Regions from separate parts of the Homo sapiens genome. Here region 2 is reported to be linked to region 1. The links are microRNA targets in miRTarBase. Many come from high-throughput screens and were not tested one by one. Region 1 holds a microRNA gene; the other region holds the end of a gene's coding sequence.

Region 1 (7,118 bases):
GGGCGTAGTGGCATGCACCTGTAATCCCAGCTACTCAGGAGGCTGAGGCAAGAGAATTGCTTGAACCTGGGAGGTGGAGGTTGCAGTGAACTGAGATTTGTGCCGCTGCACTCCAGCCTGGGCAACAGAGCAAGACTCTGTCTCAAAAAAAAAAATTATAAATGTGGCATTTCAAATGACATCGTGTAGAAAAGAAGGAGTGTTCATTAAAAGTGATTTTGGGACAAAACTTCCACTTCACTCCTTATACAAAAACACATTCCAGATGAAGCAAAGATAAACAAAACCATAAAAATAAAGCCATTAAAGAAATAACTTAATAATCTGAGTGTATTATGGCCCCAAACCTAGAAGCCATAAAAGACTGATAAATCCAAATACATGAATCATGAATTTCTGTAAGACAGAAAAACAAAACAAAATACCATAAACAAAGTCAAACGACAAAAAGACTGAAAAAGAATAAGTGTAACATATATCACAAAGGGCTGTTTTCCATCATACCACAGAAAAATGAACACAACTCAAGAACAGATAAATCACAGGAAAAAAATTACAAATTATTCTCTGTATGGAAAGGTACTCATCTTGATTCATAATAAAAGACACAGTCCAGGCGTAGTAGCTCCTGTCTGTCATCCCAGCACTTAGGGAGGCCAAGATGGGAGGATTTCTTGAGTCCAGGAGTTCAAGACCAGCCTAGACAACATAGAGTGACCCCCATCTCTACAAAAAATTTTAAAATTAGCCGGGTGTGTTGGCATGTGCCTGTACTTCCAACTATTTGGGAGGCTGAGGTGGAAGCACTGCTTGAGCCCAGGACGTTGAGGGTGCAATGAGCTGTGATAGTGCCACTGCACTCCAGTCTGGGCAACAGAACAAGACCCTGTCTCAAATAATAATAATAATAATATAAATACAAATTTTAAAAAATCAATATAAGAGACGAATTAAAATCACAGCTAGAAACCACCTTTTGTGAGTTGTGGGGAAACAGGCACTCTCACACATTGCTAAGGAGAGAAAAATGGATACAATCTCTATGGGGCAATTTGCCAATATATATTAAAAAATGTACAGATTAAGAACGCACAAACCTTTGAACCAGCAATTCAACTTTCTAGGAATCTATCCTACAGATAGATGTACCTGTACTTGTGTACAATAATAAAAGAACAAGGATGTTCACTGATGCATTGTTTGTAATAGGAAAATACTGGCAATCTAAATGTCCAGCTATTAGGGACTGTTAAATCATTACCATACATACGTACAATGGAACGAGGCAGCTCTACATATATTCATAAGTAAAACAAGCCAGTATAGCATACTACCATTGTGTTTTTAAAAGGATATGTATCAATAACATTGTTATTTACGACATATTTATGACAAAAGATGTTAAAAATGCTGATATGGGCATAAAATAAATCTGAAAATATTTCCAAGAAACCATTACCACTAATGGCTTGTGGAGAGAATTGCAAGGCTGGACTATAGGAATAACATGGATGTTTACTTTTCCCTGTATCTTTTTTGACAATTTTGGATTTTGTATCTTTTGTGTGAATTACCTTTCATTGTTGTTTTACGAGTTTTAAGATTCCATTCATTCCTGGATTTATTTGCTAACCTTGTACAAAGTTAACAGTTGTCAGAAAAAGATATAGTAATTCCTGTCTTGAGGAGCTGATGGGCACTGGGCCTAGGACCTCTTTGCACTGGAATAATGGGGGAGGGGAGCGGGTGACCTTATCAGAAATGCAGATTCCTGGGCCCCACCCCAGACGGACCGAATTAAGAGTCCCAGAGTGACGGCAGAAATCTCCATTTTTGACGGGCTCCCGCTGGGATTCGGGTGTCTGCTCATCTGGAAGCCTCCATGCTGGAGAGGTAGTCAGCACAGCGCACGCAGGGCGTAGGCGTGTTTTCTCGTCCCTCCCTCGCAACCACAGTCCCGCTCAAGGCGTGGGGGTGTCACCCGAGACCCGGGCCTCCCCTGCACTTTCCTTTAGGCCGAAACCGCGAGCCTTCGCTTCAGTGTCGCTTTTCCTTCGCCGCCGCCGCCGCCGCCGCCGCCGCTCTTCTCAGGACCTACATCGACTGCCCAGTCGGCTGAGCTGGGCCCTGGGCCACCGAGGCCCGGGGAGCTGAGGGGCTCGGGACCCTGCGAGCCGCTTAAGAAAGGACCGCAAGAACCGAATGCAGTGAACTGCGAGAGCAGGGAATGAGAGAGAAGTTAAACCGTTTAGCAAAAAAAAAAAATAAGAGACATGATGGAGGCAGAAAATAAATTGTAGGGGGGAGGGAAAAAAGCGTTACGACTCCGCCGGGACTCGAACCCGGAACCTTTGAATGCCTTCAGCCTCTAGAAGTCCAATGCGCTATCCATTGCGCCACGGAGCCACCTGTTGGAGTCTCAGCGCATCTGCTATGTTAAGCCAGAGGCGACGGCCCCGCGCTCTTCCGACCGCGCCTCCCGTCGTCAGTGTCACCGAGACCCAGCCGCCGCGCTCAGGGCACTGCCATCCGCCTCAAACGCCAGCCGCAGGCTCTCGGTCTCCCCGCAGTGGTCGCCCCTCAACAAGGTCGGCGACCCAGTTGAGCCAAGGGCGGCCGCAGTCCGACGGTCCCACCTGGTCGGTGTGAGGGCAGCCGCAACCCGGTCCCCTTCACGGTCCGGGCCCAGCCGTACGAATCACAGTCGCGCTTTTCCCTCCCCGGCTCCCTTCCTGCCCCAAGCGCCCCGCCTACCAGGTCTCTCCGGCGGCCGCTCCAGCCCGGCCGGGACCCCAGAGTTGCAGGCCCAGGCCAGCCGTTGCACCGTTAAGCCGGGCCGGTGACGCCGGGCCTTTACGTCGCGCCTGTGAGCGGCCGAGGCCGAGCGGCCTCCCCTCGGGCTGCGAGACGTAAGCGGCGACCCCTCTCGGGCCTGGGCTCTTCCCTCGCGCCCGGCCGCCGCGCCCGACCCAGCCGCGGCTGGACCTGCGCGCGAGCGCCGCCGCGCGACGTCTGTGTGCGTGCTTGTGCGTGTTTATTTGCGCGGGGTTCGAAAAACGGGGTTTGGGTTGCATTTCGCTCCCCACAGACCCAGAGCCGAATTTCTGAGGTATCCGGGCTCTGGTGGACTGAGGGGGGCGACGCGCCCCGCGCCGCAGCATCCTCCGAGAGCTCGTCTTGCCGCCAGCACCTGCCTCCAAGGACGCCGCGCAGCTGCCCCGAGCCCGCGCGCCCGGGGCCCGCGACTGCGTGGGCGGAAGCCGGGAGGGTGTCAGCACGCGTGGGAGCGCTGGGAGCATGCGTATGCGGGTGCATGTGGTCGGAGGGCGCGCGCTCGAGCGCGGCCGCGGGGTTTCCTGGTGGCTGCGAGCGGTGGGGACGGCAGCGGGCCTGGCGCCGCTGCCCAGAAGGGTGCGGTCGCCACGAATCTGAGAGGCGGCTGGGTGGGGGCCGGCAGGTTTCCAGTGCCCGCAGTGATCCCCATCCGCAAGACCCCGAAGCCCTTTGAAATAGACGGTCAAAGCCGCGTGGTTGCTCTGCGACTGCAGCGGCGAGACCGAACGCCCGGCCCCCGTTCCTATTAGCTCACAGCAGTCCCGGCCCCGCCTACGGAGGATTCGCAGGGCGGCCGCTGGGCGCGCTTTCTCGGCTCGGCCACAGCCCGTTTCTGCACCAAACCCGCCAGCCGCGGCCCACCCTGTGCTTCACCCATACCCGCCCCTGCCCAGCATCGCCAGGCCTCAAATGCAGAATAGTCTCTGGCAGAGTTCAAAGAGGGAAAGGGAAGTCCTGGGAAGAGTCCAGTGTGGTAGGGATTTTACAGTCTTACTTAACCCCAAGACGAAGCTATGGGGCGGGTACATACACACCACCGTCCCCTTTATAATATAAAGAAGGGAAACTGCAGCTAAGAGAGGTTAAAAAACTCGTGTAGGGACGCCCAGCTAGTGAGCGTGGAGAACTGTGATGAATCATATTTTGTTATGTTTGCAAACTAACACGTTAGCTTTCACGGTTTCATGAATGCTGACAGAACACACCAGACTTCTGAGTCAGAGATAAAAGACTATTACAACAAAAGCAATAGCCAGAGTATCACCATTTTTGAGTTGGCTCCCTGGACCCCAGTTCTCACAGGAACGAAGCACACGGGCCCAGATGCATGCTTACACACAAGATGGGTTGCATTACAGAAGAGGAATGCTGAGCTTGGGGAACCCACCATGTTATAGTGAGCAGTAAGCAAGCCTGCTCTTTGTTCCATAGGGAGACATTACCTCATCCCTCAAGATTGCTCGCTGCAAACACAACGCTGAGAAATGGCCCAAGTAAAGCGTGATCAGGGTCTTGCATTCTTGGCACATCTAGGAAGAACGTGCAAGGATGCGAATTGTGAATCGCTTCTCCAAACAGTAAGTGGCAGAGCCCTGATTGGTGCCAGGCCTATTTAATTATACTCTAATGTAAACAAAGTTTTATATATATATATATATATATATATATATATATATATATAAAATTGTTATGCCCCTTTAATGAATTAAATGTCTTCACATTGCATGCAGGGAGAATTCTCATATGGATAAAATTAGCCTTTAAAATGGAATATGGTTTTAAATTGTATTTATTTAAACAAATCTTTTTTGAATTCTGAAATATGCCAGGCACTGGTGGCATCTCAGGGTCTCCACTGGTCTTAGGAGTTGCTCACAGCCGAAATGGGAGAAGAGATGCTCTGTATGCCTGTGGGAAAACCATACAGAGGAATTCTGCCTGGGGTATTGGAGCCAAATCTCAAATGATGAGGAGTCATTGACGTGATTAAGTGACAGTTGAGATGCGTATATAAAAATTCTGGAAAGGGGGAATTGGGAAAGAAACAATGTGCTAAGGAAAGATGTGTATGTGTTTGATTCCACTTAATGATTCAAACGAATAATTTTAGATATTTTATTCCACTAGATGAAGCCAAAAAAATTCCTGTATCATGGAAAATATTAGAGATACAGTGTTAGCAGACAGTGTGGGAAAGCCAGGCTTTCCCTGTGCAGCCTTCTGTGAGCTATCAAGGTTGTACTTCTTATACCCTGCAATTAGAAGACTGGGGCCAGGTGCAGTGACTCACGCCTGTAATTCCAGCACTTCTGGAGGCTGAGGCGGGAGGATCACTTGAGGCCAGGAGCTTGAGGTTACAGTGAGCTATGATCGCGCCACTGCACTCCAGCCTGGGCGACAGAATGAGACCCCATCTCCAAAAGAAAAAAAAAAAAAAAAAGAAGAAAGTCACAGCCAAACAAGGTCAGGTGTGTGGTGGTTCTCTGAACAATTAACTAAGCAGTTTATAGGTAGCAATGTTAGCATGTAAGAAAAATGAAAAGAGTATTTAGTTGCCATCTGGGGAGAAAGATTCAGTGGGTGTTGTCTTCCCCTTATCTAATCTGGCTGAATTTTCTCAGGCTGTATCTGTAGTAAACAGCCATTATACAACCTGAGCTAAGAATTCCCGCAAGTGAGAAAGCAACCTCTTCCTGCCAACAGAGGGAGTCAAAGCATGGGTTATAACCACTTTCAATTAGGCTGATTGCAGCACATCTGCAGTTTGAGTTCGCTGGACAGCAAAGCCCTAAATTAAATACGGTTTCATGTTGGTGTTTTATTTTTATTTTTATTTTGAGACAGAGTCTCACTCTATCACCCAGGCTGGAGTGCAATGGCATGATCTTGGCTCACTGCAACCTCCATTTCCCGAGTTGAAGCAATTCTCCTGCCTCAGCCTCCTAAGTAGCTGGGATTACAGGCACGTGCCACCACACCCGGCTAATTTTTGTATTTTTAATGGAGATGGGGTTTCACCATGTTGTCCAGGCAGGTCTTGAACTCCTGACCTTGTGACCTGCCTGCTTCGGCCTCCCAAAGTGAGGCGTGAGCTACCGTGCCTGGCCAGCAGGATTATTTTTAAGTTACTGTGTGGTTAGTGATTTCGGCCTTCCCAGAAGCTCTGGAAATGGACTATACTTCTACTGTATATATTTGCACTAGCTTTGCTTTACTCCAGAGGTATAAGGTTGCTGGAGTACCAGTTTTATTCAATTCAATGAGTAGGGACAATACAGTTAGGCCTACTGTGGGAACCAAGTGAAAGTTTAAGACATAATTCCTACCTTCAAGGACACTCCAAATTTCCTAGGAGAAATACGATTTATGAATATGAAGCAATAAGCAAATGAAGCAAGGTAGCATGTGAAAAAGTGGCATAATGTGACTGGGCATTCCTACCGGTAAAAATTTTTCAGTTTGGACCCCCAAGGAACCAGGATGCTCTATTATACTACTAATAAAACATACCTAAAAAGGAATTTTTAAAGGGTGAGATTTAAAAAACAAACAAACAAAAACTGTGGTAGTAGCAGTTAAGAGTACAGCCTGTGGAGTCAGGACCCTGTCATTCAAATCTTGGTTCAGCCTTTATTTGCAGGACATGATCCTTAACTTCTCTGCCTGAAAAATTATAAAATTGTTATGAGAATTGCAAGAGTTAATCCTCTCAAGGACTTGTCTCAGTTCTGGCACATGGTAAGTGTGTAACAAATATTTGCTATTATATTAGTAAGTAGCTCTTAATAAAGAAATCCCACATCCTGCAGAAACAAAGGACAGTACAGATACAGCATCAGCTAAATTTGTTGCAACCGGAGGGACATTCTGCAGCTCCCTACCCCACTCCTACTCAGCTGTACATTTCATTTCTGTTACCGAACAGAACACTTAGCTTCTCAGACTGAAGACATCTACCTTCAGCTTCAATTCCTCACAGTTCTTAGTTCAAGAACCTTAGGCACATTTTTATTTTCATTTGTCCCACCCACCACATGGTTTCCCAAGACAAGGGTACCATCCACCCTTAAGGACTTAAGAAGACTCATTTCTTGCTAGAAAAATCTACTCACAACGTTGAAATGAAGGCCTTTTTCATCCTAAAATCTACTCACAACATTGAAATGAAGGGCTTTTTCATCCTAAAATATCTCAGTGCTGAGTGTGATTACTGAGCCAGGCCAATAGCCAAACCACATTAGGTGGCCAGGCAGGAACAGGGGAAGGAAAAGAAAATTTTCCAG
Region 2 (7,118 bases), not on the chromosome of region 1:
GATGGGCAGTTCAGGTCATATGGTGACTTGATGACCCATAGTCAAACATTCAGTTTCCACCAAAGCCCAGTAACAGGCCAAGAGCTGTCTCTCAAAAGGAGAGTAGTTAGCTGCAGAAGATGGCAGGGCCATCTTCTCCAGATCCTACAGGCCTCCGCTGTGATTCACCTATGGGGTGAAAATCCTACAGGCCTCCACTGTGATTCACCTATGGGGGCCTGCCAAAGGCTCCAAACAGCATCCCTATCTGCTACTGACGCCTCAAGCACCATTGGATCGCTGGGTCATATGGCCCAAGTGGCAGAGCAGCTTGCACAGCAGCCTGGACCTGTTGCAGAGCCTTCTCCTGTTCTGGACCCCACTCAAAACTGGCAGCCTTTTAGGTCACTAGATAAATGGGCTGGAGTAACACATCTAAGTGAGGAATGTGTTGCCTCCAAAATCCAAATAGACCCACTAAGCATTGTGGATCTTCTTGGTTGTAGGAGGGACCAAATGAGGCGACTTATCCTTCACCTTGGAAGGAATATCTTGACAGGCCCCACACCACGGGAGCCCTAGAAAGTTTACTGAGATAGAAGTTCCCTGAAAAAAAAATTTTTTTTTTTTTTTGAGACAGAGTCTCACTCTGTTGCCCAGTCTGGAGTGCAGTGGCATGATCTCGGCTCACTGCAAGCTCCGCCCCCCGGGTTCACGCCATTCTCCTGCCTCAGCCTCCCGAGTAGCTGGGACTACAGGCGCCTGCCACCATGCAGGGCTTTTTTTTTTTTTTTTTTTTTTTTTTGGTATCTTTAGTAGAGACGGGGTTTCACCATGTTAGCCAGGATGGTCTCAATCTCCTGACCTCATGATCCACCTGCCTCAGCCTCCCAAAGTGCAGGGATTACAGGCTTGAGCCACCATGCCCAGCTGAAATTTTTTTTTTTTTTTGAGACAGAGTCTTGCTCTGTTGCCCAAGCTGGAGTGCAGTGGCAATCTCAGCTCACTGCAACCTCCGCCTCCGGGGCTCAAGTGATTATCCTGCCTCAGCCTCCGAAGTAGCTGGGACTACAGGTGCGCACCACAACACCCAACTAATTTTTGTATTTTTAGTAGACATGGGGTTTCACTATGTTGGCCAGGCTGGTCTTGAACTCCTGACCTCGTGATCCGCCTGCCTGGGCCTAACTGCTTTGGCTAGAACCTCTAGCACAATGTTGAATAGAAACTGCAAAACAGATATCTTTGCCTTGTTCCTGATCTTAGGGGGAAAGCATGCGGTCTTTCACAACATTAAGGATGATATTAACAGTGAATTTTTTGTAGATGTCATTCTTCAGGTTGAGGAAGTTCTCTTCTATTCACACTTGGTGAAATGTCTTTATTATGCAAAAGTGTTGGATTTTGTCAAATGCTTTTTTTGCATCTATTGAGATGATCATGCAATTAAAATTTCGATTAATATGATTACATTAAGTATGTGTTGGATATTGAACCACCCTTACATTCCTGGGATTCCACTTGATCACGGTGTATATTTCTTTTCTTATATTGCTGGATTTGGTTTTCTAGTATTTTGTTGAGGAATTTTGCATCAATATTCATGAGATAATAGTCTGTAGTTTTCTTGTGATGTCTTTGTCTAGTTTTGGTATCAAGGTAATACTGGCCTCACAGAATTAGTTGGGAAGTGTTCCTTCTTCTATTTCTGAAAGTTTGAAAAATTGGTTTTAATTCTTCTCTAACTGTATGGTAAAATGCAGCAGTGAAGACTTCTAGGCTTGAGCTTTTGTGGGTACTTTTCCCTGTTTTAAATTACTATTTCAACATCTTCACTCATTATAGGTCTATTCAGATTGTCTATTTCTTCTGGAGTCAGTTCTTGTAGCTTCTTCCTGTCTAGAAATTTGTCCATCTCATCTGCTATGGTTTATATGTTCATATGTTAGAACTTAGTGCCCAAGGTGATAGTATTAAGAGGTGGGGCCTTCTGGGAAGTGTTCAAATCATGAGTGCTCCATCATCATGAAAGGGATTACAGCTTTTATAAAAGAGGTTGAAGGGATCACCTTAATTCCCCTTTTTGCCCTTCTACCATATGAAGATACAGCAACAAGGTGCCACTTTGGAAGCAGAGAGTGAGCCCTTACCAGACACTGAATCTGTTGGTGCACTTTGCTCTTGAACTTCACAGCTTCCAGAACTGTGAGAAATAAACTTCTATTATTTATAAATTACTCAGTCTGTGATATTTGGTCATAGCTGCATGAATGGACTAAGATATCATCTAAATTACCAAATTTGCTGGCATATAATTGTTCTAGTATTCCTTTAAAATCCTTTTTCTGTGTGGCCAGTTCTGATTCTAGTAATTTGAATCCTTCCCTGGTCAATCTTGCTACAGATGTCTATTTTGTTTACCTTTTTAAAACTTTTGGTTTTGTTGATTTTCTCCATTATTTTTGCATCCTCTATTTCATTAATTTCTGATCTAATTTTTATGATTTTATTCCTTCTGCTTACTTTAGGCCTAGTTTGCTCTTTTTCCAGTGTCTTAAGGTGACAAGTTAGTTTATTGATTTGAGTGAGATCTTTCTTGTTTCTTAATATAAACATTTTCAACTTCTGGGATACATGTTACTATTTTTCAATTTGGGAGGTTTTCGACTATTATTTCTTTGAATATTTTTTTTGCTCTTTGCTCTCCTTTTGATATTCCCATTATACATAGGCTGGTATGCTTAATGGTGTCCCACATTTTTCTGAGACTCTTTATTTTCATTATTTTTTTCTCTATGTTCTTTGGCTGGCATAATCTCCATCAGCCTATCTTCAAATCCACTTATTTTTCCTTCTGCTAATTTTAAAATTTAGGCTGGGTGCAGTGGCTCATGCCTGTAATCTCAGCACTTTGGGAGGCCAAGGTGGGCAGCTCACCTGAGGTCAGGAGTTTGAGACCAGCCTGACCAACACAGTGAAACACCGTCTCAACAAAAAATACAAAAATTAGCCAGGCATGGTGGTGTGTAACTATAGTCCCAGCTACTGCGGAGGCTGAGACAGGAGAATCACTTGAACCCAGGAGTTGGAGGTTGCAGTGAGCCAAAATGGTGCCACTGCACTCCAGCCTGGGTGACAGAGCAAGACTCCATCTGTCTCTCTCTGTGTGTGTGTATATATATGTGTGTGTGTATATATATGTGTGTGTATATATATACACACGTAACTTTTCAGATTCCATAATTTCCATTTGGTTCCTTTAAAATAATTTCTATATTCATTTGATGCAGCCTTATTATATCATTGTTTTCTTTCTACTACCCACTAGTATTCCAGCTATGATGTTGCTCCTCAGGGTGTGTAGCTTTGCGTATGCCCACAGTCACCCTGGGATGACAGTCATTTTGGTAGAGTTCTCTTCCTCTTTCCCTGACCACATTCATTAAACCACTAATTGCCAATTCTATTGTTTTCAACAATGCCCTGGGGCACCATGCTCTACAAACAAATCCAATCAAATTCTGACTCCTTTGAAGAGAGAGTTTCTGGGAACACTGTGTGATATTCCTTCTGACCCCTGGATGCCTTCTCCCAGCTCTTTTCTTCAGTTACCTCCTGCAAACTATCTGGCCTGTAGCTGAGCCTGCATCTTGTCTCTCTTCCCAGGGTTTCATGGCCTCCACTGTTTCTGAGTGCCTTCAGGCTTGAACCTCTTCATTCTTTGTTGCAAACAAAGTCAGTTTCTTTGGGAAGAGATTAGGAGCTATCTGTTTTACTGCCTGTTTCTCTACCCAGGCAAAATCTCTGAGCAGGGCTCAGAGCTGAGGGTGCAGAAAACAGTAAGCTTCTCAATACAACTGTTCACTGTTAAAGTTTCCTTTCTAACTATTGTTATTGTTTCATTTCATGACTATTACAGGTTGAGTATGCCTAACCCGAAAGGTTCCAAAATTCAAATCCTTTTGAGTGTTAAGATGATGCTCCAAGGAAATGCTCATTGGAGCATTTTGGATTTCAGATTTTTGGATTAGAAATGCTCAATTGGTAAGCATGATGTAAATACTCCAAATCCAAAAAAGTCTGAAACTGGACACACTTCTGGTACTGAGGATGCCAGATAAGGGATAAGGGATACTCACCCTGTGCTACTGTGTGAGTCAAAAATGTGAGGCTCCCCTATGGCGGCCCCACCCTCCCCCACAGGGAAGTGATGTCATCAGGAACCCCAGGGGCTCCCATCAAGTCAGGGACCCTGGAGCTGGATGTCCTATAAGCACCCTGGGATGCTGGAAGGATGAGTGGTTTCCAGGGAAATAGAGGAAGATCCTTCCTGGCAAGGGCATGGCCAGGACAATGGCTGGGAGCCTGAGGGCCAAAGCTAGCAGGTGCAGGTCAGGGGCCAGAGCGGGCAGAGCTGTGAAGCCGCAGGCAGGGTTGCCATGGAGGTGATGGGAGTGCCCAGAACTGGGCATGTGCGGTGGGCGTCTGAGGGTCTCTAGGTCCCAGCATGATGCTTAGTGTGTCGGGGCACCCAGAGTTCCCCATCACCACTCAGGGCTGTGCAGTTCCCCTCAGCAACAGGCATGGTTCAGCACAGTGTTAAAGGCTGTCCATGGGGAGAGCAGGGCAGGTACTGGGGGCCTGGGCAGGCAGCTTCCCCATAGGGCGAGGCCCGGGCCTGGGCCTTTCCCCAGCCACCACCGCAGCCAGAAGAGGCAGCGGCTGGAGTCCCGGGGGCCTGCACTGGGGTTTCAAGGACACTACTGTTGCCGTGGTCATGGCCTGACCTGCTTCACTCTCTGCCCTATCATCCCACGAACAAAGGAACGTTCTCTTCCTCACACCTGGAAAAAAAAACAAGTGAGGAAAGTTCGTCGTGCTGCACCTCCCCTGGTTGGTGACCCTTTTCCAGCTTTCGTGCAATCTCCAGAGTTCTAGGACCTGCTGTCCCCACCTCATTCTCCTGCAAACCGGTGCCTGGGTGGGGGTGCCCTGGGCCTTGTCTCCCCTGACCTGCCTCGAAGCCTCCTCACCCTCCTCTGCCTTCCTGGTTCCACAGCTCGGGCCCCCATCCCATCTACTCACCCCTGCAGGGCCCTCACACAGGCTCTGTCCATGAACAGCAGTCCCCAGTTCCAGACCTCTCACCTGGGTGGCCGGTGGACATCCCAGACTCACCATCCAGAACTGGTCTCCAGTCCCACCTCCAGGCACACAGCGCAGGTCTTCACCTCTTTCTCCTACCTGCATCCTGTCCACCAGGAAATCCTGTGGCCTCATCGTCCGAATACCTCCAGAAGCTGGCTCTCCCTACCCTCTCCCCAACCAGGCCCTGCCCTATTCACCTTCACTCAGAGTGAAGTCATACTCTGATAGGGCACACAGAGACAGGCTGAACATGAGGCTGGGAGAAGTGGGAGCTACTGAGTGTTCTAGGTAGTAAGAAGTAACCAGGATGCAGCTCCTTGGGAGCTTTCTGTCTCCTGCTGCCTGCTCTGCCTGGCACACAGAGGATGGTGGGGGCACCAGGATGGGTGAGCCGTTGCCTGGAGAGACCTGGGACCTGCTCCGGGGTGGTGCCCTGGCTCCCCATGGCGGACACATCACCTACACGCCCTCTCCCGCTATCCCCCCACTCCCCCAGCAGAAAGAAGCAGCCGAGGTCTCCTGCTGTACTAATGTATTCCATCTTTCAAAAAGAAAGACATGATTTTAATATTACTTAACAATATGTTAAAAAAGTAGCCAGGCAGGCCTCCGTGTTAATACAGTCGTACACTCTATAACAGACTTGATGGTGTGAGTACTGGGTGGGCTTGTTTTTAACTTTCTCGTTCTGCAAGGGATCTTACACAAGCTGGCTACAAGTCAGGGGGATCAAACACAAACAGCGCAACGTGTACACTCGGAGACAGTAGATTGTGGAGAACAAAGGAGGCCTGCCCCGCCCAGCCCGCCTAGGGTGAGACGCAGGGGCACAGGAGAGCTGAGTGACGGCCGATACCCCGGTGAGGACACATGACAGGACAGGGCGCAATGCAGAGGCAACGGAGCCACGTGGATGATGCAAACTCCTATCTGGCCACGGCCCAGGCCTCCGAGGCCGCGGTGGTGGGAGGACTTGGCGGGAACTACTGTTCCAATCCGACAGCACAGAGCTACAATCGAAGGAGTCTCACGCACAGACTACACGCACACGAGCTAACGGCGTGGGCCGAGCATCAACTTCTCGGTCTGGGGTTTCAGGCAGCACCAGCTCCGCACAGCCCTTGGCAAGCACCACGGCTCTGGGGCGCCAGCGAGGGGCGTGGCTCTTGGGGTGGTGCAGCCTGGCCTGCCTCTCGCGTGTCCCTCTCCAGGGAGTCCTCATTCAGTGGGCAGCAAAGGTGGCTTTTTTCAAGCTAAAATTGGACCAGTTGATAGACAGTCTTTGTCGGGTCTGTCTAGCAGAATCCAAGCAGAACCTGCAAAGACAAAAAGCCAAACAGTCACTGAAGGAAACAGCCCACAACCAAGCTGGTGCTTGGCAAAGCCCATCACACTCCTGTTCTTGCCAGAAACTCACTGCGGGGTCAGGGGTTTAGATTCTCGGTGAGGGGCACAGTGTCAAGGGTCCCCTCCAGGCCCTGCTACAGGCTGCACTTGAGAAGGGGAAAGGACTCGGGAGGAGGAATGGGTGGGCGGAAGGAGTCCTGAGAAAGAAAAGAAACGTTTAATCTGAGAGCTGTGAGCGCCCTTAAATTATCAGGCCCAGGCAGGGTGTGGTGGCTCATACCTGTAATCCCAGCACTTTGGGAGGCTGAGGAGGGCAAATCACTTCAACTTAGGAGTTCGAGACCAGCCTGGGCAACATGGTGAAATCCTTTTTTTTTTGAGACAGGGTCTCACTCTCTTGCCCAGGCTGGAGTTCAGTGGCAGTTTCGGCTCACTGCAACCTCCACCTCCAAGGTTCAAGCAATTCTCTGCCTCAGCCTCCCAAGTAGCTAGGACTACAGGCATGTACCACCACACCGGTTTTTTTTTTTTTTTTTTTTTTTTTTTTGAGAAGGAGTTTCGCTCTTGTCATCCAGGCTAGAGTGCAATGGCACAATCTCAGCTCACTGAAGCCTCCGCCTCCCACGTTGAAGTGATTCTCCTGC

The links. Region 1 holds the annotated microRNA hsa-miR-760 (CGGCUCUGGGUCUGUGGGGA, at 3,080-3,099, opposite strand). A microRNA usually pairs through its seed, bases 2 to 8, with sites in the 3' UTR of a target mRNA and lowers its output. Matches are read on the target gene's strand: a 7mer-m8 pairs with bases 2 to 8, a 7mer-A1 pairs with bases 2 to 7 and ends in A, and an 8mer does both.
Region 2: miRTarBase lists FAM193A as a target of hsa-miR-760. Seed matches in the 3' UTR shown: 7mer-A1 at 6,288-6,294 and 7mer-m8 at 6,263-6,269.

What each region holds. Positions count from the first base shown.
Region 1 is chr1:93,842,861-93,849,978 of GRCh38, reverse strand. It overlaps MIR760 (microRNA 760), which reads right to left and starts at 3,147; the gene lies at 3,068-3,147. TRR-TCT1-1 (tRNA-Arg (anticodon TCT) 1-1) reads right to left here and starts at 2,406; the gene lies at 2,322-2,406. It also overlaps a transcript of BCAR3 not described here. RefSeq lists enhancers at 1,997-2,046, 2,261-3,051, 3,727-3,856 and silencers at 2,747-2,886, 3,067-3,446, 3,537-3,596.
Region 2 is chr4:2,731,100-2,738,217 of GRCh38, reverse strand. It overlaps FAM193A (family with sequence similarity 193 member A), which reads right to left. Exons shown (of 21, transcript NM_001366318.2): 21 at 5,645-6,443. The coding sequence ends at 6,350. Among named protein-coding and RNA genes, the nearest start is that of TNIP2, 22 kb to the left of the region's middle.